4 linked regions of the Homo sapiens genome follow. The protein of the gene in region 3 purifies or fractionates together with the protein of the main gene of each other region. This does not show direct contact. Each region holds a gene or a part of one and is shown on either strand. Other genes may lie near its edges.

Region 1 (8,245 bases), on a different chromosome or scaffold from region 3:
CACTACCATGCCTGGCTAATTTTTGTATTTTTAGTAGAGATGAAGTTTCACCATGTTGGCTAGGCTGGCCCCGAACTCCCAACCTCAAGTGATCTGCCTGCCTCAGCCTCCCAAAGTGCTGGGATTACAGGTGTGAGCCACTGCTCCCAGCCTCTTCTAGGCACTTCGGAAAAGTGCAGCGATTACTGACCACACGAAGGCCAGAGATGCAGCAGGCATCTATTTACATGCATTAAATACATATATTATCTTCATGCATTTACACATTCATTCAACAAACATTACTGAGCGCCTGCCGTGGGCTGGCATGGTCCTGGGCACAGCTCCGCTTGCAGGAAGCCCACTTTCTCCTGGGGAGTCAAAGCACAAACAAAGCCAAGTCAGTACGTAAAGAAGCAGGGGTGATGAGAGATGCGGACCCAGGAGGGGTTCAAGGGGCTGTCCTGGACGCATGACAGGGAAGCATAGCTTCTTAAAGGACTCGGCAGTGCACCATGAGAAGACACGCACCAGGGAGCAGAGAGAAACGCCAGAACCCTCTCGAAGAAGGAGGGATGTGAGGAGGTCAGGATAGTCACCTGTGCTGAGCCATCATGGAGAGTGAGGGCCTGTAAGGGTGGACACAGTATGCAGGAGGGACAAATCTTCCTCACCGGACAGGTGGGGATCCCTGCGGTGCACTAGGGGAATGCACACAGGGGGCACTATGACCTGGCGGCCCACGGGGCACGGGGACGCACCAGGTAGCCTTGGGATCTGCAAGTCCCTCCCGGACCCTGGGGAGTGCCATGACGGCTTCCAGCAGCAGTCACTGTCCTGGGCGCGTCCCGCGCTCTAGCCCAGGTGGGTCCCACAACGGTGTGACCAAGGACGTCCTATGACCACCCCTTGACAGGTAAGGAAACTGAGGCAGGAGAGGCGAAGCAACTCGCCCAAGGAATGGGCTGTGCCGGTAGCTTCTCCAAGGCCTGGTGCGCCCTGGCCTGTGCGCGTGATCCCGGGCGGGGTCTCAGTACGAACAGGGGCTTCGCGATGTGGCCAGCGCGGGCTTATCTCCGTGCCGTGACGACAAGGCTAGAAGCCTGGGCGGCCGCGGTGGATCCTCGTGGCGAGGCGGGGAGGGCGCCGGGCCTCACTGGCCCGCTCGAACCAGGGCTGCGCAGGGCAGAGCCCAAGGGAGAGGGCCGCGCGGCCGCCGTAACGTCGGAGACGACGCCTGGCAGGCGCCAGCAAACGCAGAAGACCCGCGAGGGCGAGGCAGGGAGGGCGCGACGCGACAACGACCACGTGCCCCGCCCGCCCAGGCGCGCGGCCTGCCGGGAGACGCAGTCCAAACCTTTCGGGAGCAGGACTAGGGGTCCCAGAGAGCCTCGCGGCGCGCATGCGAGCCCCGGCCCCCTCTCGCGCAGCCTGCCGGGACTTGTAGTCCAACGCCAGCAGGCTTCCGGGCCCGGAGTGGGCGGTGGGACTCGGGGTCCCAGAGAGCCGTGCGCGGGCCGCGACGCCGAGCACCGCCCTCGCCGTCGCCTCCGGGCTTTCTCCGGTCGCTGCCGCCACCACCGTTGCTTCGCGGGCTGGGAGGCCCGGGGTCCCCGGGCGAACAGAGGCTGCGGGTGGGAGCCTTCGCGGGCGCTGCAGAGCGGGCCGGGGGAGGCCGGGATGGAGCCCCGCGGAGGTGGGCGCGCTGCCGGGCGGGGCGCTTGCGGCGATTGGGGAGGGGGCAGAGGGAGGGGCCCGGGGCGGGGCTCGGTGGCGGGGACACCGGGGCGGGGGCACCGGGAGGAAGCTGCCTTGGAAGAGGTGGGGGCGGCGACGGGAGGGGCGGCGAGCCCCCGGGAGCCTGGGCGTTAGGCCCGGGCGTGGCGGGGCCCCGGCGGCCTGGGGGGTCTCCTGGGCCCCCCCCCACCCATGGAGCCCGCCGCCCCGGAGGTCGGTCTCAGATGACTGAACTGGGCACCGAGCGCCCCTGGTGTCCCTCGCAGTGGACTGACGCCGCAGGGGCGAGCTAGCCGGCTCCGCGCCTCTCCGCGGGATCCAGACGCCTCCTGGGGCTGCTGGCGGAGGGTCTGAGGCGGCGCGGCCATGGCTCACCTCCGGGGATTTGCCAACCAGGTGAGAAGGGTGCAGGTCAGGAAGACTAGCGGCCTCTCACCGAGGGGCTCCAGAGTCTCCTGGGGGTTCAGAGGGGAGCGCCACGCCGGAGCGGGCAGTGGGGTGAGGGAAGGAGCGCGCGTCGTGCGACCAGCGGAGCCGTCCTGAGGTGGGCGCAGGGCGGCCCCGGGGCTCTGCCGTGTGCCTGTGGCGTTTTGCGTGGCAGAAGCTCGCAGGCCTCTAGAAACCGAGCCCCTGGTGGCTCCGCCTGTGCGAGGGCGGTGGAGGTGCGTGAAGAGACACCGGCGCAGGGACGGGGCGCTGCCCCCAGCGCGGGGCGGGAACCTCATGTCAGCATCCGAAGGCAGTGGAAGGTCGGGGGCCACCCTGCGGCCTCGGCCTGGGCCGCGGGTCATTCTGGCCGTGTTGGGCTGGGCAGGGGCTGTAGGGGAGACCCTGGCGGGCGCTGAGGGGCTGAGATTGTGGAGAAGCAGATCTGAGTGGCCGGTGTGCAGGGAAAGCAGAGAACACGTGTGTGCTTTGGCCCAGGGGAGGGTGAAAAGGCTGCTCTGTCAGGACCGTTTAACCCCTGCGACGGGCGGTTGCCCGAACATGAGACTCATCTTTCTTCTTTAAAGAAGTCGTTTCCACTATGGAGCCACCTTTAAGCGTCTGGTGGGACAGCCTCGGAGGGAGCCACTACGGCGAGCCCTTAGCCTGGAATGAGGACCAGCTGCTGGTGCCAAAGGGCTTGCCGGGGAAGGAGGGTGGGGTCAGCCAACCTGGGGCCTGGGGACTTGCATTCTCTACCCCTCCCCACTTTTTTGACTCTGGCCGCTGGGTTTTCTTACATCTTAGCTGTTCGGTTTTATTCTCCTTGATGCCTTGGCTCTACCTAAGGCGTTGGAATCGCCGCTAAAATGTGTGGCCCTCCTTGTTCACTCCTATGTGCTGAATGGAGAGTTGGGCCTGCAGTGGAACAGGAAGGGCGTCTGTTCGCGTAGGGGCAGGAACTGGAGTCAGGGCTGCTTTGGAGGAAACCGGACCAGCCTAGAGACCCGGAACACCATGTGCAGCTGTTGGGCCAGGCAACCTGGACCTGCGTGGTCACAGATGAGACTGGGGCTTGCTGACTGTTGCTGAATTAAGCTAACAGATTTTTGGTTTGCTTTTGGCATTCTGTATCTGGTAACTTACATGACTAAGGTGCTGGGAGAAAAATCTGCCACCAGTTTATTTTACTTTATTTTTATTTTTTTGAGACGGAGTTTCGCTTTTGTTGCCCAGGTTGGAGTGCAATGGTGCAATCTCAGCTCACTGCACCCTCTGCCTCCCAAGTACAAGCGATTCTCCTGTCTTGGCCTCCCAAGTAGCTTGGATTACAGGCATGCGCCACCATGCCCAGCTAATTTTGTATTTTTAGTAGAGACGGAGTTTCACCATGTTGGTCAGGCTGGTCTCAAACTCCTGACCTCAGGTGATCTGCTTGCCCTGGCCTCCCAACGTGCTGGGATTACAGGCATGAGCCACCGCGCTCGGCCACCAGTTTATTTTTAAGAACTGCAGAAATAACTCCTTTGGGTCACAGGATGAGAAATTGGAGCTCCGAGGTGCCCTGTAACTGTGTGCTATTGGTTCTTGGTGCGATCGCACACAGGGAAGGGAGTGCGGGCACATTGGAGAAGGGATTCCAAAGGTAGGAAGCTCCTTTTGTCCTTTTAGGGATCCCTTTGTCCCAGCCTGGATGATGAGAGACTTGACTTCATATAGTGGCAGAAAACCTGAGGGGCTGTGGTTTTCTCCTGAGATGGTTGCCATGGTGTCCTGTGGACCTGTGGGGCAGCCCCTTTGTGGGAGAGTGGGGCGCGTTCCCCCCATAGCCTGTGCTCCTGCCTTAGACTTCTCCCCTCTACCTGGCCAGTTCCTGCCTGGCCCTGGAGGGCCCGAATGGCTGTGGGGTGCCAGAGCACTGTATCACCACTCAGCTATGTGTGCTGGGTCATTCCCCTTGTTTTGTGGGGCAACACTGACAGCAGACACATTGGCAAGTGGAGGCCCCAGACCTGGCAGCCCCAGGGCTAATGTGGAGAACAGGTGTCCACCGCTCGAGTCAGCTGAGTGGCCCGAGTGATCATCCAGGCCACAGCTGCTGCTACATCCAAAAGAGGATTCGCAGCCTCCAGGCCAGGGGCCCACTTACCCTTTCTTCTCCAGGTGGGGGTGGGGATGGCTTGCCTTGGCTTGGCCTGCGATGTCATTGTAGGGCCAGGATCACAGCCAAGAGGGTTCCTGTCACACAGTTTCTGCTTGGGCTGATGAGCCCTGGCTCTGGCTTAGGGGTCCGCTGTGCTCCCCTGCTGTGAAGCAGTAGAGGTCTGAGTGCCCACCCAGGGGTTTCCCTACCGGGGCTGCTGTGATGGAGCAGATTCAGCTCCAGGCCCTGTGTGGAGAGCAGCATGGCCTCAGCAGGGAGCAGGGAGTAGAGCAGGGCGGGAGGACGCGTCATCCAGAGAGGCCTGAAGAGTCGGAGGGGTGGTGGTGCTGGGTAATGCTGCCAGGTCATGGCCCTGCTTTCTCCAGGCCCTCTCTCAGGCCACCTTAGACAGGAGTAGATGGGAGGACACAAGCTCAGGGCACCAACAGACCTCTGGAATCCCCAGGAGGACTCCCTTGGGGTCTTTCCGGGTGCTTGGGCAGGGTTGGGTTGAGGCTGAGGCCAGGCCTACAGGCTAACGGCTCGGTGGAGCAGCGTCCCAGGGCCCCGAGTAAGCGTTGATGGGCTGAGCAAACAGGGAGGATTTGACAAGGTGGCGTTGGGCCTGCTGGAGGAGGAGCAGGCAGAAGAGGGGCTGCTTCTGCAGATCACCTGAGGTCAGGAGTTCGAGACTAGCCTGGCCAACATGGTGAAACCCTGTCTCTACAAAAATTCAAAAAAAAAAAAAATTAACGGGGCATGATGGCGGGTGCCTGTAAGTCCGGCTACTCGGGAGGCTGAGGTGGAAGAATCGCTTGAACCTGGGAGGCGGAGGTTGCAGTGAGCCGAGATCACGCCACTGCACTCCAGCCTGGGCAACAGAGTGAGACTCTATCTCAAAAAAAAAAAGAAAAAGAAGAGGGGCTGCTTCTTAACCTTGTCCTGCACCTGGCATCCAGGACTGGGCTAGGAACGGGTGGTCCTCCACCAGAAATGGAGCAAACAGGGAGGAGGAAACGGAGATGATGCTCTCTATGGCAGGAGGGTGATATTTTAACACTGACTGCTTACCTATGACAGCCAGTGGGCTGATGAGCTTATGCTTTGACATGCACTTGTGGGCCCAGCTACTCAGGAGGCTGAGGAGACCAGCCTGGGCACACAGCGAGACCCCCCATCTCAAAAAAAGATTGCATGTTCTGGGTTGACTTTCCTTTCAGATAGGGGCTGGTTCTCACCTCATCTGTGCCACCCACCCTCAACCCGGAGACAGCTGAGCACCTGTGACTTGTCAGCTTTGAATTTTTCCTGGCTTCTCTTTAGAACACATGGTCAGCAGCAGTGATGGGGCTGGGGGCAGACACAGCTCACCTTGACCGGAATGACCCCAGGCAGTACTCAGCTCTCTCTATCCTGCCGAGTTTCTTGACCTTGGCTTTGGGGACTCCTGGTAGCAGGTGGGCTCAAGGCACCCCCTGCTGTTTCCTCCATGGGTACTGGCTTTAGGACTGGGCTGCTGTACTGATGAGAGAATGAGAAAGGTCACTTTTGACTCGACCAGCTGTCTCAACTGGCCAGACCTTTGGGCTAAGCAAGGGTCTGTGTGTACACTGCAGCTGGCCTGCTCTAGCTGCTGCATGGAGGCCACCTGCACACCCCCGGGCCTTGACAAGCCAGCCTTGCAGGGAAAGGTTAGGTGGCCTCTGGCCCTCCCCTAACTGCCTTTCCTTCCCCAGAGTTCCAGTCACCTCGAGGTCTGGCACTCAAAAAGGGATGTGCAGCGGCATGTTTCAAGGTGGGGGCCTGTGTGCCGCCCCTTCCACCCTCCTGGTTAGGAACCCTGGGAGGTCAGCTAATTGGCAGTTTCACACGGAAGTGTCGCCTCAGGCTGGTGCGATGTCCAGTTGGCTTCAGCCAGCTCCTCCGCTGGGCTTAGGCCTGGGGTGGACCCAGCACACAGGTGTCCAGGGGGTGAGTGTGAGGGCTGTGTGTGGTGTACCCCATCCTTCTTGGTGGGCACGGTCTCCGCAGGCCCAGGAACGTGCAGGGCACCCCCACCCAAGGACCTGTCCTGTCTTCAGTGTTTTTTTTTGTGGCATAATTAGTCGTTTTGCCTTTTTTTTTTTTTTTTTTTTTGAGACGGAGTCTTGCTCTGTCGCCCAGGCTGGAGTGCAGTGGCACGATCTCCGCCTCCTGGGTTCATGATATTATCCTGCCTCAGCCTCCCGAGTAGCTGGGACTGCAGGCGCCCACCACCACACCCGGCTAATTTTTTGTATTTTTTAGTAGAGACGGGGTTTCACCATGTTAGCCAGGGTGGTCTTGATCTCCTGACCTCGTGATCTGCCCGCCTCGGCCTCCCAAAGTGTTGGGATTACAGGCGTGAACCACCGCGCCCAGGCTGTTTTGCCTTTTTATGCTCTGCCACACTAAATTGGCATCAAGACCCTTGATGTTGTTAGGGGAGGGGCCGTGCGTGGTGGCTCACGCCTGTAATCCCAGCACTTTGGGAGGCTGAGATGGGCAGATCACCTGAAGTCAGGAGTTCGAGACCAGCCTGGCCAACATGGTGAAACCTTATCTCTACTAAAAATACAAAAAATTAACTGGGAGTGGTGGTGCATGCCTGTAATTCCAGCTACTTGGGAGGCTGAGGCAGAAGAATCGCTTGAACCCAGGAGGCAGAGGTTGCAGTGAGCCAAGATTGCACCACTACACTCCAGCCTGGGTGACAGAGTGAGAAGCCATCTCAAAAACATTTAAAAAAGGGTCGAGGCTTGAGGACACACCTCTGCTGGCTTCCCCTGGACTCTGGGCCTGGGCCACAGACCCCAGGCACCTTCCACACCACTGGCTCAGAAACTTTTAGGCATTGCTTCTTTAAATCTGAGGACTGTGTGAGGCAGCTTTCTGCATCAAGAAAGCATCAAGTTTCTAACTCCGCGCTGGTGTAGCTGTCAGGAGGACTTATGGAGGGGTGAGGGAAGCCCTTTCTAAATACGTGACTTTCAGGAGTGGAGGAGAACTTGGTTAACACATACTGAGGTTTTTTGTTTTTGATGAGGTTTTTTTTTTTAAATTTTTTATTTTTTTGAGACCTAGTTTCGCTCTTGTTGCCCAGGCTGGAGTGCGATGGTGCGATCTCGGCTCACCGCAACCTCCGCTTCCCTGATTCAAGTGATTCTTCTGTCTTGGACTCTCAAGTAGCTCGGATCACAGGCATACGCAACCTCGCCCGGCTAATTTTTTTTGTATTCAGTAGAGATGGGGTTTTACCATGTTAGTCAGGCTGGTTGCGAACTCCTGACTTCAGGTGATCAACCCGCCTTGGCCTCCCAGAGTGCTGGGATTTCAGGTGTGCACCACCAAGCCTGGCCTGATGAGTTTATTTTTTAGTAATTTCAGATTTATAACAAATTAAGTAAGAGCTCCCAAATCCCCCCTCACCCCCAGGGGCCATTCACCTATTAACATCTGTCACGGGGCTGGCATGTTGTTCGGGTTAGATGAGGCAACCTTCATGCCGTGTCATCACCTAAAGCTCCTGTTTCCAGCAGGGTTCATCGAGTTGGCCTGGCCTCTTTATACTTTCTGGGGACTTTTTCCCTTGCATGGAAAGTTCAGTTTAGGTTTTTTTGTTGTTGTTATTTGTTTGTTTGTTTGTTTTTTTAATGGAGTTTGATTCTTGTTGCCCAGGTTGGAGTGCAATGGTGCGGTCTTGGCTCACTGCAACCTCCGCCTCCCGGGTTCAAGCAATTCTCCTGCCTCAGCCTCCTGAGTAGCTGGGATTACAGGCATGAGCCGCCACGCCCAGATAATTTTTTTGTATTAGAGATGGGGTTTCACCATGCTGGCCAGGCTGGTCTCGAACTCCTGACCTCAAGTGATCCACCTGCCTCGGCCTCCCAAAGTGCTAGAATTACAGGCGTGAGCCACCACGCCCGGCCAAGTTTAGTTTTT
Region 2 (6,185 bases), about 65 Mb from region 3:
ATTACAGGTGTGAGCCACCACACTCGGACTTAACTGACCTTTTCCACGACATTAAGATTAGGACTTGGTTTTTCATCTGAGTTTCTTCATTTATATATCAGAGAAACTGTTACTTGCTTTTCCTTTCATGGGATTCTGAGAATTCAATATAAAGCATTTTTAAAAGGGTTATAGTTTCTTTCTTTTTCTTTTTTTTTTTTGAGACAGGGTCTTATTCTTATTCTATAGCTCAGGCTGGAGTGCAGTGGTGAAACTGTAGCTCACTGCACCCTTGAACTCACAGGCTCAAGTGATACTTCTACCTCGGCCTCCAAACTAGCTGCGACTATAGGCGCATGCCACCATGCCTGGCTACTTTTTAAATTTTTTAATGGAGATGAGGTCTTACAATGTTAACCTGGTTGGTCTCACACTCCTAGTGCAAGTGACCCTCCCACCTCAGCCTCTCAAAGTGCTGAGTTTACAGGTGTGAGCCATCACGTCTGGCTGGTTATAGCTTCTTGTTGGAAGGCATTTAATTAATCAGTGTCTTCTAAAACTATTAATACCCACTGCAATCAGAGTTTCTTGTTCAAGAAAAAGTTCTATTTAACAAAAGAGAAAAGAAAAATATGGTGTCCCAAAGAAAAAGTTCCTATGTCTTTTGCTTTGTTTTCTTGAATTTATGAAGCATTTACCTTTTAAGTTAAAAAAAAAAAAAGCCTCTAAAGTATATCAGATATGTCAGGGCAGGCTTCAGATGCCAATTTCATTACACATATTTTGAGGTTCTAAATATGCAAGGCACTGGAGATTCAAAGATCAGCATGGATAATTTTCTATACTTCACAGGACTAGAGAATTAAATGGAATAACATCTGCAAACCTATGAGCAAAATAGGAGAGAGAAACATAGTACAGAGAATAAAGTCTTGAAGTTCACACTGCCGAAGTGTGATTCATAGCTCTGTCACTTACTGGAACCCTGAAGTGGGATCTGGTAGTCTCTCTAGTCTGTTTCCTTGACTCTAAGATGGGGAATAATGGTATTTGTCACAAGGGGTGATTGGGCATTAAATGAGACTGTGCACATAAAGTGCATATCACAGTGCCTGGTACACAGAAAGGTCAATAAGTGCTAGCCATTTTTAGTGCCTTCCACATAATGGGTCTTAATACATGGCCCATTTTCTTTTTCCTACACTTCAATTTCTAAGAGATATTTCTTTCAAAATGAAGTCTTTAAATGATTTCTTATACCAATAATCTTTTTCTTCTGGGGCCTTCTGATATGATCTGAGACTAATACCACTCAGAATTCTATAAGGAATCAAACTCTACTTTGAAAAGACCCTTTGTCATGGGAGTCAATCTAAACAATCAAACCCCAAACAAACAGATGAATCAGAAAGTAAAAACTAAAATGACTATCAGGGTAAAGCCCAAGATTACTAGTCCAAACAGTGCCTTATGGCAGATAAAATGTGATTTGCCATATAATTTTTATTTACCCTTGTTTTTCAGCAGTAGGTCTGTGGCTTAAAGAAGGCAACATGACTGCTCTATTGAAGTTGGGTTTGCATTCCTGGTAACATTTTTCATTAATGACCGCCAGATCACCATCTTACCTGCTGCTTTGAGAAGAGCTGCCAGCCTGGTGGACCCTCTCCCAGCTGCTATATGCAGGGGTGTGGTTCCATCGTAGGTAGTACTGTCCACATGGGCATCACCCTACAATCCAGCCCACACAAGAAAGCGTTAGTGGAAGGTTCTTTTGCCCTTTTGTCCCCACCTCCCAGTGTGCATGGCTCCTTGGGTCCTATTACTAGCCCAATTGCTACTTTGGGCTGGCTCTGTCATTGAAGAAATCCCCAGTTAGAGATGCCAAGCAAGGGGGTTGGGGGAATGTCTAAAGGTGGTACTCTGAAGCCCTCCATAAATGTTAAACAAATAGAGCTGATTGTAAGGGAGAACAGCAGCTACTGACTTCCTTCTTTGAAAAGATTTCCTTAAATCTCCCTCAGAAATTTAATGCAAAAGCAAATAAGTGTGCCCTTCACCTCCAGGAGCAGGCAGCCTGCCAATGAGATGTTGTCGTGCTCCACAGCCAGGTGCAGTGCTGTGCGCCCGGACTTCTGCTCCTGAGCATTGACGTCAGCCCCAGCGGCCACCAGCAGCAGCAAACATGGCAGGCTATTGCTCATCATGGCTAGATGAATGGCATTCAGACCTAGAGTCCAAGCAAAGGGACAGTCACAGGATGGGATGGCTAACTCACAAGATGGCCCTTGTGAAGCTGAAGGAAATGGCAAAAACTGAATCATGGGGAGGGACAGTAAAGATACTATAAGTCTATTGTTCTGCTTTGAAGACCCACAGTCTCCTATTATGTTCTCAGGAGACATGAACATAAATAAACATTCTCTGAATAAACGACGCTTTGTGTACTTCAAGATGAATCTTTACTCAGGCCTCTGCTTTCTCCTCCTACTAACTATTCCAAATCATCTTTAAAAAAATTAGCTTTGGTGAGCAACAGAAATGCCCAAAAGAGATGATGAACTCCAGGTGACTAAGGAAAGCACTTTTGGGTGCAAATCAAATAACACACGTTTATCAAATACCTAGTAGATATTTAGAAGGTGGAGAAAGTTACACCAATGATGTGTGATTGTCTCTTACCGTCCCCGTTGGGGTGGTCAAGAAGTAGTGCTGCCTTTTTGTGCTTGAGTAAGATACTGAGAACTTTATCATGTCCTTCTTTGGCAGCTAGGTGCAAAACAGAGTTACCCAAGCGGTCCAGAAGGCTCAGGTCGGCCCCAGCCCTCAGCAAATCCTCCACCACATCTTCCTGCTTAGTGATCACTGCCAAGTGCAAGGGCGTCTGGAAAGTGAAAGGGCAGGAGATTCACTGGTCAGCAGTGAATACTTACTTACAACTCACAGCTTGGTAGCTGTTACTGCAATAGGTGGGGCCATACTGCAGGAATATTTCTCATTCCCAGATTAACTTCTGACCTTGGCACCCAAGTTATCCTGTTCCATACTATATGCTAATGAAGTACATATACTGTACTAACACTTAGCCATTCAATAATTCATGTTTTAAAATTCTTATTTATCTTAAATTTAATTGACAAATAGTAATTGTATATATTTATGAGGTACAATGTGATGTTTTAATCTAAGTTTACAACATAAAATGATTAAATCAGGCTAAGTTACAAATCCATCACTTCATATACTTACAATTTTTTCTGTGGTGGGTTATTTTCATATTTACAAGTCTTAATAGCTTCTTGTTTCTCACTACAACCCACTGATTGTTGATTTTGAGCACACCTAGTAGTAAATTTAGTTTTCTTAAATATCTGGTAGGAGTTACCTCCAGCTGATAATTTTATATTAACAAATCAAATTAAGGCTATGTTTTCACTGAAGAAATTTAAATAAAGTACTCAATAGAAACCAATTAACAAAAGTGCCATGATTCTATGCTGACATGGAAACTAAATTTACTAAATTAAAAAATACTGTCCCATGGACTGGCTCCTGAGACCAGTCAATATAGCTTTCCTACACCCATTTCATAAAAGGTATTATAAGATTCTAAATAACATAACCAGGATAATACAAGTATCTCACCAAGGGGGCTCAGCTGAATAAAAAAGGTGAGCTGCTGATACCTAATAGGTACTTAAATAGTCCATTTGACTATCCTGCCCACAAGGTATTACTTCGGTGAATGCAAATAAGATGTTTTGCAAACTGTGTGTTTTCAAAAATGAGTAAGACAAATACAATCACAAACGTATCTTTCAAATAACTGAGTTCACTGACAGAGAACAGCAATGTATCTTTATACAAATCAGTTTATTTCACAGGAGCCTAACTATGACATCCAGCCAGTCTTGTGACAATTTGCCTAAAATTCCCTTTTCATTGAGCAGTTACTGGCTACAGCAGCAGGTGAGCCACCAACCTCCTAGCTGTGTAGGTGACCACAGCACATGATAACTGGCAGGATGAATGATGGGAGGGTAGTCTAAATCTCAACTACAGTGATTATTTACTATACAAGACCCTTTTTTTTTGCCAAATTATTACTTGCCCTTATTTCTTTCATTTTCTAGGACTATCAACCTGGCCTGAAATGAAGTGATGTCCTCAAAACTTTAGATATTGTTGCCAAGAGCCTTCTTCTCAAAAATAAGTCAATGGAAACTGTGTTTACTAATCTGTGTTTTCTGAAATGCTACTTGGGGAGATGGGAAAAGGAAAGAGAATGAGATTGTGAAAAAAGGATCTGAAATTATAAGATAGTATACCATTCAGGAATTATAAATTATCTGTAGCTTGAATTTAATTAAAAAATATCTTATGAGTCGGAGAGGTTTTTTTTTTTTAATATTTTCTTCCACAGTCCAATCAATGGTTTTCCATGATATAAACCTTCTAGTTCTTAAATCCAAGGATTATATCTTAAACAATTATACCTTCATGCTATGGCTGTGGGCATGGGGACTTACACAGACATTCTGGAAAGCCAAATATACAAATGTCCCAGCAACCCAACTCTTGCAGATGTATCTGGGTGAAATTCTGACACAAATCCACAAGAGGACATAAGTGAGGACAGTCACTGCAGTATTATCTACTGAGGTAGGAAGTTAGAAGTTGGTTAAATGTCTACTACTAGGAAACAAGGATGTTATAGGTGAAAGACCCATACTAGATTCTCTTCAGGAGCTGAAACAACAAACTAGCTATATGTAGAACTGTGTGGATAAGCAGTGAAGGCAGAAATACAGTAACATGTAGCACAATGCCACTTAGGCATTTAAAAAATATATGCACAAAGAACTATACAGATACACACAAGTGTGTGTAAAACTGGTGAAATCTGATTAAGATCTGTGGATTGTATCAACGTCTATTTCCAGGTTTTGACACTGTTCTGAGGTTATGCAGGATGTTACCATTGGGGGAAACTGGGTGAAGAGACCTCTGGTTTCCTTGCAGTAAATACTAGGACTTCCTAGTACGTTTTTGTAACCTCCTTTGAATCTATAATTAAATTAAATTAAAAAAATTTTAAAGGTTAATGCAAGGCAAGAGAAGTACATTTAATATAATGTGGATTGTATGTGAGAGTATATGAAAATATCTATGTATTTCAAGTATACGTACATTTGTATCCAGTACTTGAAAAACTACCTATAAACACAATAGTGACATTTGTGCTAGCAGACCTGGGCATTGTCAGGGTGGGCAACTTTGACTTTCCAATGTAGATTCTTCTGTACCATTTTTAAAACTATGAATATACATGATATGTATAATAATTAAAAACATAAAAATACATAAAACCCTCCAATAATGTTTTATGGGAACATACACAAATAAAACAATCCATACCAAACACGATAGAGTGGTTGTCTATGTTGGGGGAAGGAGAATGAAAGGAGAAAAAGGCTTAAAGAGAATATTTTCATAAAAAATCCTAACTCGGTGCACTTGGACTATTTTGAGTGTGTTTCTAGAGGGTGGGTGGGGAGAGGAATTTGATCATGACAGATGGTCACAGAAATGTACTTAGATTAGTGAAAGGTATTTGGGAAGAATGCTTAACTGTCAAATAATCCAAATTATTTAGAGAACTGTATCATTTTCCATTAAGAATAGTTACTAGAGAACCTTTACAACAGATAATCAAGAGTTCAAATCTTAGCAGTTTCTAATTCTCAAATCAAAGTTGCCATTGGGTGTGTGTTTGACACCTAGAAGGCATACTAGGGAAGCCAGAATCACTGCCCATTAATCAGACTGGTGGTAAGGTAGGGGAAAAATGGACGTATAGTCTTCTGAGAGTCCCCAAATCAGAAGGGATAGAAGTATCAATGGTGGCGGTTTCAGGGTTTTTGTCTCTAACACACTGGAGAGTCTCAACATATGTAACCAAATGATACAGTAAAGAGTTTAGGATATAAAAAAAAAATCATAGCTACTGGCCAGACGCAGTGGCTCATGCCTGTAATCCCAGCACTTTGGGAGGCCGAGGCTGGCAGATTACGAGATCAGGAGTTCAAGACCAGCCAGACCAACATGGTGAAACCCCATCTCTACTAAAAATACAAAAATTAGCTGGGTGTGGTGGTGCACGCCTGTAATCCCAGCTACTCAGGAGGCTGAGGCAGAAGAATCGC
Region 3 (8,245 bases):
AAATTGATTCTGTGTTGCTTTTCCTACCGCTGGGCCAATCTCAGCTATGATTTGTGGACCTGTTCTTTTGCAGCTCAAAGACATGCCCCCTTGGGCTTCCTGGCAGAAGGTGGACTCATTTCCCACTTGCCCACTGTTCCCTGACCCCTCCCCAAGCTGGGCTTTTCCCCATCATTTCCTTTGGAACAAAATCTTCTCTTCATATAAAACTGACCATGTTGGCCTCTTCCTTCCTCAGAACATCCTAAAAATGAGTATGGAAGCATCTCTTAGATATTATTCATTTCTAATATCTACAGCCTTTATTTTTATTTATTATTTTTTTTTGAGACACAGTCTCACTCTGTCGCCCAGGCTGGAGTGCAGTGGCGCAATCTCGGCTCACTGCAACCTCTGCCTCCCAGGTTCAAGCGATTCTCCTGCCTCAGCCTCCCAAGTAGCTGGGTTTACAGGCGGGTGCCACCATGCCTGGCTAATCTTTGTATTTTTAGTAGAGACAGGGTTTTGCCACGTTGGCCATGCTGGTCTCAAACTCCTGACCTCAAGTGATCTGCCTGCCTTGGCCTCTCAAAGGTCTGGGATTACAGGCATGAGCCACTGTGACGGGCCTACAGCCTTTAAAAAGACAAGCCAAAACAGAATCTGCATCCCCAGTCTCCCTGTCTCCATGAAGCACATGCACCAGAAAGAGACATCATTCATTGCTGGCTGTGTCTCTGTCTCCCATGTTGTCCCTCCTTCCTTCTTTCAATCATAGGTGAATTTCCAGGGATGCTGCTTCATAAGCTTTTGTCCACAGTGAATATGACTGGTGCTTTTTAAGAAGTACAGATTGGTTGCTTAGTTAAAAGGGACTAGATTTACATTAAAAAAATAAAATCCACAAATAACTCCCTATGGTAGGCTGAAAAATGGCCCCCAAAGATATCCACATCCTAATCCCTGGAACCTATAAATAATACCTTATATGCCACCCCAGCCCCCAAATTAAAGGTATTTGCAGATGTGATTAAGTGTAGGATTTTCAGATGGTACAATTTGCCTAGTTTATCTGGGTGGACTCTAAATACAATTAAATAAATGCTTATGAGAAGGAGGTGGAGGGACATTTGATTATAGACAGAAGAGGAAGAGGCAATGTGACCAAAAAGGCAGAGATTGGAGCAAGGAGGTCACAAACCAAGAGTACTGGCAGCCCCCCAAGCTGGAAGAGGGAAGGAACAGATTCACCCCTGGAGCCTCTGGAAAGAGTGTGGCCCCGGTGACACCTTGATCCCTGATACCCACCCCTGGATCAAGCCCACTGATACCAATTTCAGACTTCTGGTCTCTAGAACTGGGAGAGAATAAACTTCCATTGTTTTGTTTTGTTTTGTTTGTTTTTTTGAGACAGAGCCTCACTCTGTTGCCCAGGCTGGAGTGCAATGGCACAATCTCGGCTCGCTGCAACCTCTGCCTCCCTGGTTCAAGTGATTCTCCTGCCTCAGCCTCCCCAGTAGCTGGGATTACAGGTGCCTGCCAACACGCCCAGCTAACTTTTATATTTTTAGTAGAGATGAGGTTTCACCATGCTGGCCAGGCTGGTCTTGAACTCCTGACCTCAGGTGATCCATCCACCTTGGCCTCTGAAAGTGCTGGGATTACAGGCGTGAGCCACCATGCCCGGCTGCTTCCATTTTTTTAAACCTCTAAGTTCGTAGTAATTTGCTGCAGCAGCACAGAAAACTAGTAACATCCCCAAATCACTTCATGCTTGAGGACCAAACCCCTTGTCCTTCCAACTCTTCCTGGGAGGACTCATGGAATGTAGAAGAGTCCCTCGGACCAGCCGTGCATCTCTTGCCACCCTCTTTCCTTACCGTGCTCCACCCTTCTTCAAGTCTAATTCTCAGCACTTAGGACAGCACCTGGTACAGAGCAGGCAGTCAATAAATGTGGAATGAATGAATGATTTAATGGCTATGGATTAAAAACGAGAGCACTATCAGTGAACCTGTTGTGTGTCTGCAACCAATCAAGACATTTCCAGTTTGTGCCAGCCGTGTCGCCCAGGTGTTATGAGGGTGGGCTCAGGAGACAGAAAACCCTGCTACTGTGGGACTTTGGGCCTCAGTCACTTGGCCTGTAGATGGGGATAATAATATTCCTACTATATAGTGTTGCTGGGGGTCATATGAGCAAACATTCATAATAAACATAGACCAGGGGTGTCTTAACCACCCCATTTGGATACAGCATATTAAAACACACCCCCCAAAAAGAAAAAGATGGAGGTCTAGTATCCAAGAAAGATATAATCTAGTTGCCAGAACCTATGCATACAAACAAGAGTATTAACAATGTCAAGTAGGACTTGTTTCTGGAATAAGGGCTACATGGTATATTTCTATCAACTGTGACACCAATTGAAAGATAGAAAACCCCAAGTACAACAACAGTCCCGTAGACAGAAAAATCGCTTTTGCTATGGAACTGTGTACACATGTGTAACATTGTACCTTTCAGAATACTCTTAAACTACCCCATTTCTAAAGCCCAGGATTTTATTCCCAGCCTCTACTCCTCCTTTACTTTCCTTTTCTGCTGATAATTCATAGATGAGCTGGATAAATAGGACAGGCGAGAAGAAGCACGTGCACCTCCTCCCCTCCCTCAACACCTCTCCTCACCCCTCTCCTTCCTCAACACCTCTCCTCTCCCCTCCCCTCCCTCAACACCTCTCCTCTCCCCTCTCCTTCCTCAACACCTCTCCTCTCCCCTCCCCTCCCTCAACATTTCTCCTCTCCCCTCCCCTCCCTCAATACCTCTCCTCTACCCTCCCCTCCCTCAACACCTCTCCTCTCCCCTCCCCTCCCTCAATACCTCTCCTCTACCCTCCCCTCCCTCAACACCTCTCCTCTCCCCTCCCCTCCCTCAACACCTCTCCTCTCCCCTCCCCTCCCTCAACACCTCTCCTCTCCCCTCCTCTCCCTCAACACCTCTGATCTCCCCTCCTCTCCCTCAACACCTCTCCTCTCCCCTCCCCTCCCTCAATACCTCTCCTCTCCCCTCCCCTCCCTCAATACCTCTCCTCTCCCCTCCCCTCCCTCAATACCTCTCCTCCACCCTCCCCTCTCCTCTCCCCTCCTCTCCCCTCCCCTCCTGACCCTCCCCCTCCACAATTCGCTCTGAAATCCTGACCCTTTTCATGCCTGCAATACTTTGTTTATCCTGGACTCTTTAAAAGCAAACCAACCAACAAACAACAACAACTAGTCAGGAGGATAGGTAGTAAAAAAAAAAAAAAAAACAAGTCAAAGAAAAGGAGAAAAGAGCTTAGAACTGTTTGAGAAACAAGGAAGGCAGACTGGATTGTAATAATGTAACTGAAGCAATCATAAAACATTACTCATTGAAACATCTCAGGTCAACTTTATGATGGTGAATTCAAGAGGTGTACAGGGGAAGGCGAAAGAAAGGAGGAAAGAAAAGAGGGAGGAAAGGCGAAGGAGGGCAAGAAGGCGAGGAAAAGCAGGCAGGCACATCCAGAGTGACACCTTGCACTCCCAGCTCCTCGGAGGCTGACCAAGATTGACCCTGGGGCACCCTCCATCCCCGCCTTCTGCTGCTATAGCCAAGACCACAGGAGCAGCCTGCACCGAATGAAGTGAGTGCTGAGATTTAACAGCCGTACTCGAAAACTGCCCCTTCCCTGCTTCTGAAGGAAATATACATCATTTGCGGCTTTTAGGCTCCCCTCCTTCCCCAGGAAAACCACAGGATCTATACTGTTCTTCCAAGCTGCACAATTACAAAGGATGTTGTGGTGGTTTTCCTCTTTCAGAATCAGGTTTCCAGTTTGGGTCCTCCCCGGCTTGCCTCCCATTAGGGCACACCACATGGGTTTCCTATAGACCTGGTCCCATACCTGAGGGTCATGCTTCCGCGCCTCTCCGGAGCTTGGCGGGGACAGCCTCTTCCTGGTTAGAGGTTCTGTCCTCTCTCACCTCGCCCTGAGTTTTCCTTCCCCAGCAACATTCCTTCTCTAGATCAGACGGACAGGCTCTAATGTCCAAGGTTGTGTGACTGCTGACGAAAAGGGTGGGGACTAATGTACTCACACCCAACCCCTGCATGCCTGTGTCTACAATTATTCTTCCTTATATGATGTGTCATATCAAATTTAATTCATTTCTTTTTTCATATGTCACTCCCACTTCTACATCTTGCATTTAGCAAGGACTTCTCCTAAGCCCAGGGGCAACAAGGAAATGCTCCGGGTCTAGCATGTGACACACAGCAATGAAAAAAATATGCTCTTTTGACGTAAGATTGGGTTCAAAATGAGCAGTCTATCAGCTGTCTTCCTTGCCTCCCTTTTGGCAACAGCTAGCTTAAAGGTAAGAATTCAGTTGTTGGGTACCCTTTATTACTGAGCAAAATCAAAATTTGCTTCCTCTTTGGAGCATAAAAAAGCAACAGGCAACAAAGGGAAAATCCTTCACAACCACTTCTTAGTTTACACAGGGGAAAAACAAACACCATTAGGATGGCTGTGTCCACCCAATGCTGCTGCCGCCTGCTTCTGCAGCCCTGTGTTGGGGGCTGACTCTGTTTTGTGTTTAAACAAGGCCAGGCTATCACGAGGTCAGGAGATCGAGACCATCCTGGCTAATACGGTGAAACCCCGTCTCCACTAAAAATAAAAAAAAATTAGCTGGGCGTGGTGGTGGGCGCCTGTAGTCCCAGCTACTCGGGAGGCTGAGGCAGGAGAATGGCGTGAACCTGGGAGGCGGAGCTTGCAGTGAGCCGAGATCGCACCACTGCACTCCAGCCTGGGCGACAGAGCGAGATTCCGTCTCAAAAAAAAAAAAACAAAAACAAAAACAAACAAACAATAAAAAAAGAAGGCCATGCTAATGCCATGTCAGTCATTGGTGAAGCCTCCTTGCTGGGAGGGTAGCAATGGAGGTAGGGGAAGGGCGAAGTCCAGGGAAGCCCAGGAGTTCTCCAGCCAGGCAGAGAAATTAACTGAGTATTCATTAGGAAGTCAAGGGCATATAGGAAAAGACTCAACCCATCTGGAAGCTGCCTTTAAATAGTGATAGCTTTGAAGAATGACAGGGACATTTTAAAAGGACACAGGAATCCACTTGTAGAAGTTTTACTGGCCAAATGTGGAACAACTGGAATATTAAAATAATTACTAATCTACAGCATTTGTAGCCAATTGAATAAAACAAGGACTTATGAGTCCACACTAAGATACATAAAGGGAAAGGGAACACTCTACCTTACAAGTAGGAAACCAGCTAACAAACATACGAGAAATACTGGAACTAGAAAAATCATTTGATAGCCATCATAATAATAGAAAAACCATTTGATAGCCATCATAATAATAATTGATGTCAGTAAGAAGTATCAATGGATGGTAGGACTAGTGGGTGAAATTTTGAGGAGGACAGGATATTTAGTCTTAAAGTAGCTCCCCCCCATATGATTAAGGACAAAATATTATCCTTACGTTGGAGAAACCCGGCATACAGCGCCTTAACCAAGTAATCAAAGGTAATAGTGCCATAATGAGACTAATCAATGGCATGTGGCTCCTGATAGGATGCACTGAGAACTTAGCCTCACTTCTGTGATTTCCTGACAAAAGAGCATACTCTGAGTTGAAACAACGAGGGATAGTCTGCAAAGCAACTGGCCTGTACTCTTAAAATAATGTAATGTTATGAAAAAGCAAAGAAAGACAGAAGAATGCTTCCAAATTCAAGGAGATTTAAGAGACATGACAGCCGATGCACTGCATGTCCTTCTTGCTAAAAGGTCGTTATTGACATAATTGGTAAAATCTGAATAAGGTCTGTAGATTAGGTAATCGTATTAAATTGATGTGAATTACCTGCTTTTGAACATTGTACTGGGGTTATATAAGAGAATGCTCTTGGGGAAGGGCAGAACAAGATGGCCAGATAGAAGCCTCCACTGATGTTCACTTCATTGCCCCACAGGAACACCAAATTTAACAACTATCATCTACACCAACAAGCACCTTTATAAGAACCAAAAATCAGGTACACAATCAGTGTACCTGGTTTTAACTTCATATTGCTGAAAGAGGCACTAAAGAGGGTAGTAGGAAAGACAATCTTGAACTGCCGCTGCCCATTCCTTGGCAGTGGCTGCATGTCGTGGAGAGAGCATCTGTGTGTTTGGGGGAGGGAGAGTACAGTGATTTGGGGACTTTGCGTTTGAACTCAGTGCTGCCCTATCAGAGCAGAAAGCAAAACCAGGCTGAAATCAGCTAAGCCACGACCCCCCAGCCTACCCACACACAGAGGGAGCATTTGGACCAGATCTAGCCAGAGGGAAATTATATATTCCAGTTGTTGGAACTTGAGTTTTGGCAAGCCGCACCACCATGGACTAAAGTGCTCTGCAATCCTAATACACTTGAAGGGTAGCCTAGGCCACAAGAACTGTGGTTCCTAGGCAAGATATCAGTACTGTGCTGGGGCCAGAGCCAGTGGACCTGGGGGGGCACCTGATCTACTGAGACACCAGAGTGGCTAAGGGAGAACCTGTGTCACGTGTCCCAAAACCCAGGCAGCACAGCTCACAGCAATGAAAGTGACCCCTTCCTTGTGCTTGAGGAAAAGACAGGGAAGAGTAAAGAGGACTTTGTCTTACACCATAGGATACCAGCTCAGCCACATTAGCATAGGGCACCAGGCAGAGTCATGAGGCCCCCATTCCAGGCCCCAGCTCCTAGATGACATTTATAGACACACCCTGGGCCAGAAGGGACTGCACTTCCTTGAAAGGAAGGACCAAGTCCTGGCAAGACCCATCACCTGCTGAGTGGAGAGCCCTTGGGCCCTGAATAACCAGCAGGAATACCCAGGTAGTACGCTATGGGCCTTGGGTGAGACTCTGAGATGTGCTGGTTTCAGGTGAGACCCAGCACATTCCTAGCTGTGGTGGCTATGGGGAGAGACTACTTCTACTTGAGAAAAGCAGAGGGAAAAGTAAAGTGGACTTTGTCTTGCACTTTAGGTACCAGCTCAGCCACAGTGGGGTAGAGCACCAAGCGAGCTCTTGGAGTCCCTAATTCAAGGCCTTGGCTCTTGGATGGCATTTCTGGATTTGCACTTGACCACAGGCAAGTCCACTGCCCTGAAGGATGTGTCCTAGGCCTGGCAGAACTTACTATAAACTGTCTGAGGAGCCCTTGGGCCTTAAGTGAACATCGGCAGTAGCCTGGCAATACTCTCTGTGGGCCTGTGGTAGTAATGGTGATAGGAAGAGGATCCTTTGCCTGGGAAAAGGGGAGGGAAGAATGGAAATGGCCTTGTCTTATGGTTTGAGTGACAGCTCAGCCCCAGTAGAATAGAGCACCAGGTAGATCTCTAAGGATTTTGACTTCAGTCCCTAGCTCCCACTTAGGGCCTGGGGTATCTTGTCACCCTGAAGGGAAGGACACAAGCCTGGCTGGCTTTGCACCTGTTGATTGTAGAGCCTTAGGGCCTTGAGCAAACATTGGAGCTAGCTAGCTAGTGGTTACAGAGGGCCCTGGGTAAGATCCAGTGCTGTGTTGGCTTCAGGTCTGACCCAGCACAGTCCTAGTGATCATGGCCACAAGGGTGCTTGTGTCACCCTATCCCCAGCTTCAGGTGGCTCAGTACAGAGAGAGAAACTTTTGTTTGGGGAACAAGAGTCTGCCCGGTAATCCAGTGAACTCTTTCAGATCTTATCCAAGACCACCAAGGTGATACCTCTATGAGTCTGCAAGAACCATAGCATTACTGGGCTTGGGGTGCCTCTAATGTAGATATGGCTCAGATCACAACACACAAGTCCCTTCGAATACCTGAAAAGCCTTCCCAAGAACAGGTACAAACAAGCCCAAACTGGAAAGACTATGAGGAATACCTAATTGTTCAATGCCCAGACACCAGTGAGCATCCACAAACATGAAGACCATCCAAAAAAAAAAAAAAAATGACCTCACCGAAAGAACTAACTAAAGCTCCAGGGACCAATCCTAGAGAAACAGAGATATATGACTTTTCTGACAGAAAACTTAAAATAGCTGTATTGAGGAAACTCAAAGAAATTCAAGATACCACAGAGAAGGAATTCAAAATTCTATCAGATAAATTTAACAAAGAGATTGAAACAAAATAATCAAGCAGAAATTCTGGAGTTGAAAAATACAAGTGACATACTGAAGAATGCATCAGAGTCTCTTAACAGC
Region 4 (8,245 bases), on a different chromosome or scaffold from region 3:
TACAGGCACGTGCCACCACGCCTGGCTAATTTTTGTATTTTTAGTAGAGACGGGGTTTCACCATGTTGACCAGGATGGACTTGATCTCTTGACCTCGTGATCTGCCCGCCTCGGCCTCTCAAAGTGCTGGGATTACAGGCGTGAACCACTGCGCCCAGCCTGAGGGTCTGGTTTTCTCCCCACGCCAGGCCACCTGCCGACAGCAGCCTCACCCAGGACAGTCCTGCTGCTGTCCAGCAGGCGCCAGCCCCCTGGACCCAGCGCAGCCCCCCACCTGGGAGGTGAACTGAGCAGCCTCCTGCGGCGGGTCAGACTTGCTGTCCCCACACACGTTGCCCCGCCGGATGTCCTTCACCGACACGTTCTTCACATTGAAGCCGACGTTGTCGCCGGGCAGAGCTTCGCTCAGAGCCTCGTGGTGCATCTCCACTGACTTCACCTCAGTGGTGATGTTCACTGGCGCAAAGGTCACCACCATGCCCGGCCGCAGGATGCCGGTCTCCACCCGGCCCACGGGCACCGTGCCAATGCCTGCAGAGGGGAGGGGGTGTGAGGGGAAGGTGGGGCCCGAGGGGATGCTGGGGCAGGATATTCGGGGACAGAGCCTGGAAACCAACAAAGCCTGGGACTGGATCCCCCCGACAGGCCTGGGGGTTGGGGCCACATGGGCGGAGTGCAGGGGAAGGGAGGCCAGGGACAAGGGCAGACACAGAGATTCCAAGGGAAGTGGGGGCTCTCCCACCCAGCTGGGGAAATAAGAGGCTGAGCAGCAGAGCTCCCAGGAACCCACGGAAAAGCCACAGGGACAGAGAAGCGGGAGGATGGGCAGAGAGGGGCTGTCTGAACCTGGGGTCCCATCCTTGCCCCCGGAGAGCACTTTCCCTCAAAGGAGGCACTATGGGACCCCTCCTTTGTCTGAGGACTCCTCCCTGTGAGTGTGGGCGGGGCGACTGACTGCTTCTGCCTGGGGCCTGGTGGCCCTGCTCCCTGCTCCCTGCAGGCCCTGCTCCCTGCTCCCTGCAGGCTCTCTGGGCCCCACTTGGATGCTGCAGGTCTCTATCACTAAAGGGGCCTCTCAGCCAGATGCAGCACAGGCACAGCGGCACATGAGCGTCCCTGGCATTTCTCATGGATCTACTTAAACCAATTGTGCAGCTGCCACATGGGGGTCTTGTCCCCCCCCAGGCTACTGGGTCTCCACCCTCACCTCCCAGGGCTGTGAGGGAGGCCTGTTGTAGCCTCCAGCCAACTTCACTGAGGCCAGTGGCTGTGCTCTGTGCTGGGGTGAGCATGATGCCCCCACAGTGCACACAGAGATGCCTGCAACATCTTTGGCTGCAGCCCACTGGCTGGGGGTCTCCTATCAGTGCCCTTCTCTAGGGTCTCAGATTTGTTTATGGTTTCTCTTCTTGGTGGGATGGATGGATGGATGGACGGATGGATGGGGAGGTGGGTGGATGGATGGATGGATGTATGAATGGGGTGGTAGATGGATGGGGAGGTGGATGGACAGAAGGATGGGTGGGGAGATGGATGAGTAGGGAGATGGATGGATGGATTGGTGGATGGATGGATGGATGGATGGATGAGGAGGTAGATGAGTGGATGGACAGAAGGATGGATGGGTAGGAAGGTGGGTGGATGAATGGATGGATGGGGAGGTGGATGGATAGATGGATGGATGGATGGATGGATGGATGGATGGATGGGGGGATAGATGGATGGATGGATGGATGGACGGACGGATGGGGAGGTGGATGGATGGATGGATGGATGGATGGATGGATGGATGGATGGATGAGGAGATGAACGGATGGATGAGATGGATGGATGGATGATGGAGGGAAGGATGGCTGGGTGGGGAGATGGATGGATAGAGAGGTGGATGGGTGGATGGGGAGATGGATGGATGGATGGATGGATGGGGAAGTGGATGGATGGGGAGGTGGATGGATGGATGTATGGGTGGGTAGGTGGGTGGATAGATGGATGGATGGATGGATGGATAAATGGATGGATGGAAGGATGGATGGATAGGTAGGTGGGTGGATGGATGGATGGATGGATGTACAGAAGGATGGATGGGTGGGTAGGTGGGTGAGTGGATGAATGGATGGATGGATAGATAGAAGGATGGATGGGTGGGTCAATAGATGGATGGATAGAGAGAAGGATGGATGGGTGGGTAGATGGATGGATGGATGGATGGATGGATAGAGAGAAGGATGGATGGTTGAGACAATGGATGGATGGATGGATGGATGGAGAGATGGATGGATGGATGGATGGACAGAAGGATGGATGGGTGGGGAGGTGGATGGATGGATGGAAGGATGGATGGATGGATAGAGAGAAGGATGGATGGGTGGGACAATGGATGGATGGATGCATGGATGGATGGATGGAGGGATAGAGAGAAGGATGGATGGGTGGGACAATCAATGGATGGATGGATGGATGGATGGATAGAGAGAAGGATGGATGGGTGGGGAGATGGATGGATGGATGGAGAGGTGGATGGATGGATGGATGGATGGATTGATGGACAGAAGGATGGATGGGTGGGGAGGTGGATAGATGGAGAGATGGAGGGATGGTTCGATAGAGAGAAGGATGGATGGGACAATGGATGGATGGATGGATGGAGTGAAGGATGGATGGGTGGGGAGATGGATGGATCGATGGATGGATGGATGGATAGATAGATGGATGGAGAGGTGGATAGATGGATGGGTGGATGGATGGACAGAGGATGGATGGGTGGGGAGGTGGGTGGATGGATGGATGGATGTGGGATGGACTGTCCCACAGAAAGTGTGTGGTAAGGGGAGAGATTGGAGACAGCCCAGTCTTGAGATGCCTTGTAGGGGCCCCTGGTCTAGGGCAGGCAGAGCTGGCCAGGCAGGAGCTCCAGCACAGCGCCCTTGCTCACCGCCAATCTTGTACACGTCCTGCAGCGGCAGGCGCAGGGGCTTGTCCGTGGGGCGCGTGGGGGGCAGGATGGTGTCCAGGGCCTCCAGCAGGGACACGCCGCTTGCGTTGCCCTCCTTACGCTCCACCTTCCAGCCCTTGAACCACGGCATCTGGACCAAAGGGAGAAAATCAATCCGTTAAGAGACATTGGTGGCCTCCCCACCCTCAGGCCTCCCCAGGGTGCTTCCAGGAGTACTGCTGTTCAGGCTAAACTTGCCTCGTGCCCTTTGAGATGAGGAATTTCCCCACCCTGCTCCTCCCCAGCCCATAGCCCCAGCATCACAGGGACTCTGGGAAGGAGATCCCTCTTAAAAGGAGGAGGACAAAGAGGGAAAGCACCCTTCCCAGCCCAGGCTGCTCAGGAGTTGCTGACACTGTGAACAAATCCCCAGTCCAGCCCCAAGTCCCCGAAACCCCGGGCCCCTGACCATCAGCTCCAGGCAGGGCAGATGACTTGACTAGGAGGATGCTGAGTCTGGCCAAGGGCCAGGCCAGGGACAGAGCTGGAGGAGCCTCGCCCCACCCTAGCTTCTGGACACCGTGCTGCCTCCGAGCTTGGCCCAGCCTTGTCCGGAGCTTCTCCTAGTGTGGCCCCCACTCCCATCCCATGAAGCCTCCCTCTGGGCCACCTGCCACAAACAGGGAGCAGGGGAGGGGGCCGGCAGCACAGTGCCCCAGCCCCCCAGGGCCTGTGTAAGCACGAGCCACCTAGCAGCTCAGGCCAGAGGGGAGTGCAGGGTCCCTGATGGCTGGAGGCCTCCCTGGGGAGGGGAGAGTGGCGTTCGCCACATGATACCCCATGAGGAAAACGCCATCACAGGTAAACAACACCGAGCCTCGTGAGATGGAGGCGGAGCTGGGGGAGTCCCTCCCAGTTCTGTCCCCAGACCTCAGCTCCAGGCTCAGTGCTGCTGGTCTGTCTCCCTGCTGTCTCTAGACTCCACACCTGCACCCTCACTGTGGGCAGCGACAGTGCTGGCAGAGCCTAGTGGTGGCCATTCTGGGGTCTCCTCTGGCTTGGAGAACCCTGGGAACAGTCTCAGGTTCTGCAAGTGTCTCCACGCGTCACCTCCAGCCAAGGCAGAGTCCCTGGGCTACAGACTGTTCGCACGTTGAGCTCCCAGGTGACCGGCCAAGAGCCAACCCTTGGCCATCCCAGCAAGCCCAGAAGCATGCACACTTCCCAAAGCCCAACCCTGCTCCAAGATCCCAGGGGAGGCAGCCAAGGAGGCCCCCACGGCCCAGCCCAAAGCCCCTGCACGGTGTCCAGGACCAGGACAATGGCCTGGCAGAGATGAAACCGACCGCCCCCATGGCAGGGCTCTGGAGACCAAGCACATGGGCCTGGTGCTGGAGGCCGCTGCCCCTGCTGTGTTGACATCGTAGATGGGCCCTGGCCCCGGCCAGCCGCGTGGGAGGCTGAGTGTAGGAGCAAAGCCCGGTGCTGAGGGGCATGGGGCTCCCCGCCGGGCCCTGAGCCAGTTAGGGAAACCCAGCAGGTTTCGAGGGGAACCTGCATTTCCCGGGGACAGGCCCTCGACCTCCCCGTGCCACCTGCCGGTGCCTCGCTCTGGGCCAGGGGGTCCAGCCAGCTCCCGTGGCCCGCCCCGCCCTAGCCGCCACTCACGTTGGGGGAGGGCTCCAGCATGTTGTCACCGTGCCAGCCGGAGATGGGCACAAAGGGCACGGTGGCCGGGTTGTAGCCGATCTTCTTGATGTAGGCGCTGACTTCCTTGACGATCTCGTCGTAGCGCTTCTCGCTGTAGGCCGGCTCTGTGGAGTCCATTTTGTTCACGCCCACGATGAGCTGCTTCACACCCAGCGTGTAGGCCAGCAGGGCATGCTCCCGCGTCTGCCCATTCTTGGAGATGCCCGCCTCGAACTCGCCCACGCCCGCCGCCACGATCAGCACTGCGCAGTCCGCCTGCCCGGCAGGGGACACAGTGAGCCCTGCCCCGCCTGCCTGGCAGGGGACAGAGCGAGCCTGGCCCCACCTCACTTCCAGGCCTCTCCAGGCAGCGGGCTGGGGCCTGAGCAGCCCACTGGGGCCTTGGGGAGGGAGGCATGGGGGTCCCCACTTCAAGGGCAGCATGGGGGCTCATCGCCAGGCCCTGGGTCAGGGGACCGAGGTTCAGCCCTGGCTCCACCACCAGTGGGCTGTGTGTCCCTGGACAAGTCACTCAGCCTATCTGCTCCTGTTCCTCACTTGAGGACGGATAGAAGTCACAGTTATCAAAGCAGTTTGGAGGTGGTGGCATGTGTCCTGCTGTCTGCAGGGTGCTGTGTCTGGGGTGTCCGTGCGTCTCTGTGAGTGCCCTGAAATGTCATACAGTCTACACCTGGCGGGTGGCACCTCTGCCCACTGCTCACTCTCCCCATCCTGGCCTCCAACCCCTCCATGTATGAAGGTGTGTCCACGTCCCCATCTGCCCCCATCTATCTGGGGACTCTGACACTGGCTGGATGCCTTCACAGGCACTGGTTCAGATGCCAGAGCACTGGATTCATCCTTAGGGGGGCTCTGAGCCAGACTGGGTGAGGGTGGCCCAGGTGAGGGGTCCCCTGCCCTCACAGGAAGCACAGGAGACCCTACCATCCCAGTGACCCCAGGGGCCCCCAGTGTCCCTTGAAGGGTGCAGCGGCCTCTCCCCCAGCCCCGCCTGCTGTGCCCTGCTCACCTGGGATGTACCCGTGATCATGTTCTTGATGAAGTCGCGGTGGCCGGGGGCATCGATGATGGTGATGTAGTACTTGGTGGTCTCGAACTTCCAGAGGGAGATGTCGATGGTGATGCCGCGCTCACGCTCCGCCTTCAGCTTGTCCAGCACCCAGGCATACTTGAAGGATCCCTTCCCCATCTGGAGCGGGTGAGGGTCACGGCTGAGGGCGGGACCCGGGACCCAGGAGTCCCTGGTGGTGCGAGCTGCTTGTTACAGCAGAGTGGCCGCGAGAGGCGGGAGATGGGCTCCAGCACCCCCTTGCTCTCCGTCGGGGTCCTGGGACGCCGGCCCCCTCCGTCGGGACCCCACACCCAGACCCTGCCCCCCAGGGCCGGCCTCCGCACCTGCTCCGAAATGGGCGCGGCTACGCAGGTCCACCAGCAGGTGGCGCAAGGGCCTGGGAGTCGCTCGCTCTACGAGCGAAGCCGCCAGATGGGATAAACCCCTCCCGGGCGAGGGCTCCCCTTTATCTGAAGCTGCGGACGCCCCCAGATCCCTTCCTCAACCAGAGGCCAATAATACCACCGTGTTTGGGGCTGTCAGATAAATAACCCTCTGTGTGTGTGTGTTTTTTTAAGGTAAGGAGAAAGGAAAACTGAATGAGGTCAGGAGGAGGGCCTGGCCACGCAGCTCCTTCCCGCTGCTCCAGCCTCCCCATCCCTCTGAGGCTTCTCCTCCCCTTCCTCGCTCTGCCGGACACGGGAAGCTGGGGGGCCTCGGCCAGTGAGACCCCCACAGAAGGGGACGGGCTTCAGTCAGGGCAGCAGCGGCGGTCACTACCCAGCTGGGCAGAACTCCTCGCCAGGGCCTCGCACAGACAGGACTCTGCCCTCCAGGAGGCTGCCCAGTCTGGAGCAGACCCAGATGGGACCCAGCTGGGGCCTGAAACAGCGGCCCTCTGAAACCCCCGCCTCCTCCTGACAAGGCCAGGTAAAGGGTGATGCAGCCCAAACTCAGGGGTGCAGCTCAGAGCACCCCCAACCCCGCCAGGGCAGAGGCTCAGCCCAGGACAGCGAGTGCCCCCACCTTGGGCCCTGGCCTCCGCCCTCATCATCCAGGTGAGAGCTCCCACAGGCCCTCCCAGGAGTGGGCTTCTCCCCAGAGTCCTGGGTGGGGGATGGGGATCAGAGAGCAGACCCCGTCTCATGACCGCTCCCCACCACCGTCTCAGCCACCAAAGAGAAATCGCTTCAAAAGGTCAGCTAGGAGGTCACCTCATCCAGGACCCCCACCCCAGGGCTGCCCTGGACAGCAGCCCTCCACAGCCCAGCACAAGAAAATGGAGCAGACGGGCCGGCTGCCCATCAATCAGCTATTAATAGTAGCGTGTGCCCTGGCAGGGCCCTAGGACAAGTGAGGGCAGTACCATCTCCAGCCCCAGCCTTGGCCCTGGGGGGAAGGGGGTAAGGCTCCAGCGCCCTCCAGCCCCAGCTCAACATGGCAGAGTTCCAGAGCCTTCTGCAGACCCTCCCAGGTCACCTCCCTCACCACAGGGCAAGTCCGGCAGCTCGATGGCCACCCCTCCCCCACCAAGCTCCCCCTAAGAGAGAGGCTGCCCCACCAGACCCTCTGAGGCCTGAGTGCCCCACAGCGGGGGTCCCTCCTGCCCTGGAGGAGGTCACCTGAGCCCCATGCCCTGGGGCTGGGAGATGCCAAGCCTGGCCACCACGGGAGTTGGGGGTTCCTTCTCAGGGGGCCAAGACCATAGCCTGGGGAGCTCACCTCAGCCGCCTCCTTCTCGAACTTCTCAATGGTCCTTTTGTCAATACCTCCGCATTTGTAGATGAGGTGGCCCGTGGTGGTGGACTTTCCGGAGTCCACGTGGCCGATGACCACGATGTTGATGTGGGTCTTCTCCTTGCCCATTTTGCTGGGAGTGTGAGGGGCTGGCGGGACCCGGGGTGCTCTGGCTCAGGGCGAGGGGGGCTGCAGTGATTCTGTGGGGCCAGTGGTGGTGGGGAGACCGGTGATGGGGAGCCCCAGGGGGAGACACCAGCAGAGACTGTCCTGGCACAGGCTGGACAGGCATCCCTGCCCACAAACCAAGCCCCCATGTTTGGTGGGGAGGGAAGGGCCCCCACCCACAGCTGGGCCTGGCCAGGGCAAGCAGAGGCTGTGCACTGCCCCCACCCCACACTTGAGCCCAAACAGCCCCATCTGCTGTAAATAACTGGGCGTTGGAGCCCGCGGGCTGCTCCTTGGGAAGGGGTTAGCCACCATTTGGAGAGACCACGCAGCGCCAGGCTGGGTACGTCCGTGACCAGCAGAGCCGGGTGATGAGTCACCTGCCCAGCGCTCCAGGGCCCTGTCCTGCACGCGCACTCCCCTCCCCGGCGGCAGGGCCAGGGACACGGCGCCCCACCCCCACCCGCTGCCACCGGGGAGAGATGGCCACTGCTCCCCACTCCCCTCCTCAGGCAGGGACGGCGCCATCTTCCCCTCATCCCTGCCCGGCAGGCTGGGCCAGAGCCCCGACGGAGATGCGCTGCCCAGATTAGGAACCCAGAATAGCTCTAGGCACCCCCCTCCCGGACTCTCACAGGGACAGACAG

Evidence for each region.
Region 1: the proteins of PGCKA1 (region 3) and STK25 purify together in Homo sapiens (affinity purification with mass spectrometry; 3 studies listed by BioGRID and IntAct, with this or other methods). This does not show direct contact.
Region 2: the proteins of PGCKA1 (region 3) and NFKB1 purify together in Homo sapiens (tandem affinity purification; one large-scale study listed by IntAct). This does not show direct contact.
Region 4: the proteins of PGCKA1 (region 3) and EEF1A2 purify together in Homo sapiens (affinity purification with mass spectrometry; 3 studies listed by BioGRID and IntAct, with this or other methods). This does not show direct contact.

What each region holds. Positions count from the first base shown.
Region 1 is NC_000002.12:241,501,873-241,510,117, reverse strand, and holds the start of STK25 (serine/threonine-protein kinase 25), read left to right. Parts: upstream 1-1,533; 5' UTR 1,534-1,675; intron 1,676-1,772; exon of another isoform or gene 1,773-1,982; 5' UTR 1,983-2,082; coding exon 2,083-2,112; intron 2,113-8,245. UniProt on the Homo sapiens protein: Oxidant stress-activated serine/threonine kinase that may play a role in the response to environmental stress.
Region 2 is NC_000004.12:102,603,174-102,609,358, reverse strand, and holds part of NFKB1 (nuclear factor NF-kappa-B p105 subunit), read right to left. Parts: intron 2,864-6,185; coding exon 2,662-2,863; intron 2,210-2,661; coding exon 2,040-2,209; intron 1,711-2,039; coding exon 1,608-1,710; intron 1-1,607.
Region 3 is NC_000004.12:37,580,051-37,588,295, reverse strand, and holds part of PGCKA1 (PDCD10 and GCKIII kinases-associated protein 1), read right to left. Parts: intron 4,064-8,245; exon of another isoform or gene 3,908-4,063; intron 1,993-3,907; exon of another isoform or gene 1-1,992. UniProt on the Homo sapiens protein: Acts as a tumor suppressor. Acts as a tumor suppressor for colorectal cancer cell proliferation by targeting KEAP1/USP17/ELK1/CDK6 axis.
Region 4 is NC_000020.11:63,490,205-63,498,449, forward strand, and holds part of EEF1A2 (elongation factor 1-alpha 2), read right to left. Parts: exon of another isoform or gene 8,078-8,245; intron 7,631-8,077; 5' UTR 7,560-7,630; coding exon 7,416-7,559; intron 5,832-7,415; coding exon 5,652-5,831; intron 4,898-5,651; coding exon 4,601-4,897; intron 3,084-4,600; coding exon 2,933-3,083; intron 532-2,932; coding exon 275-531; intron 1-274. UniProt on the Homo sapiens protein: Translation elongation factor that catalyzes the GTP-dependent binding of aminoacyl-tRNA (aa-tRNA) to the A-site of ribosomes during the elongation phase of protein synthesis.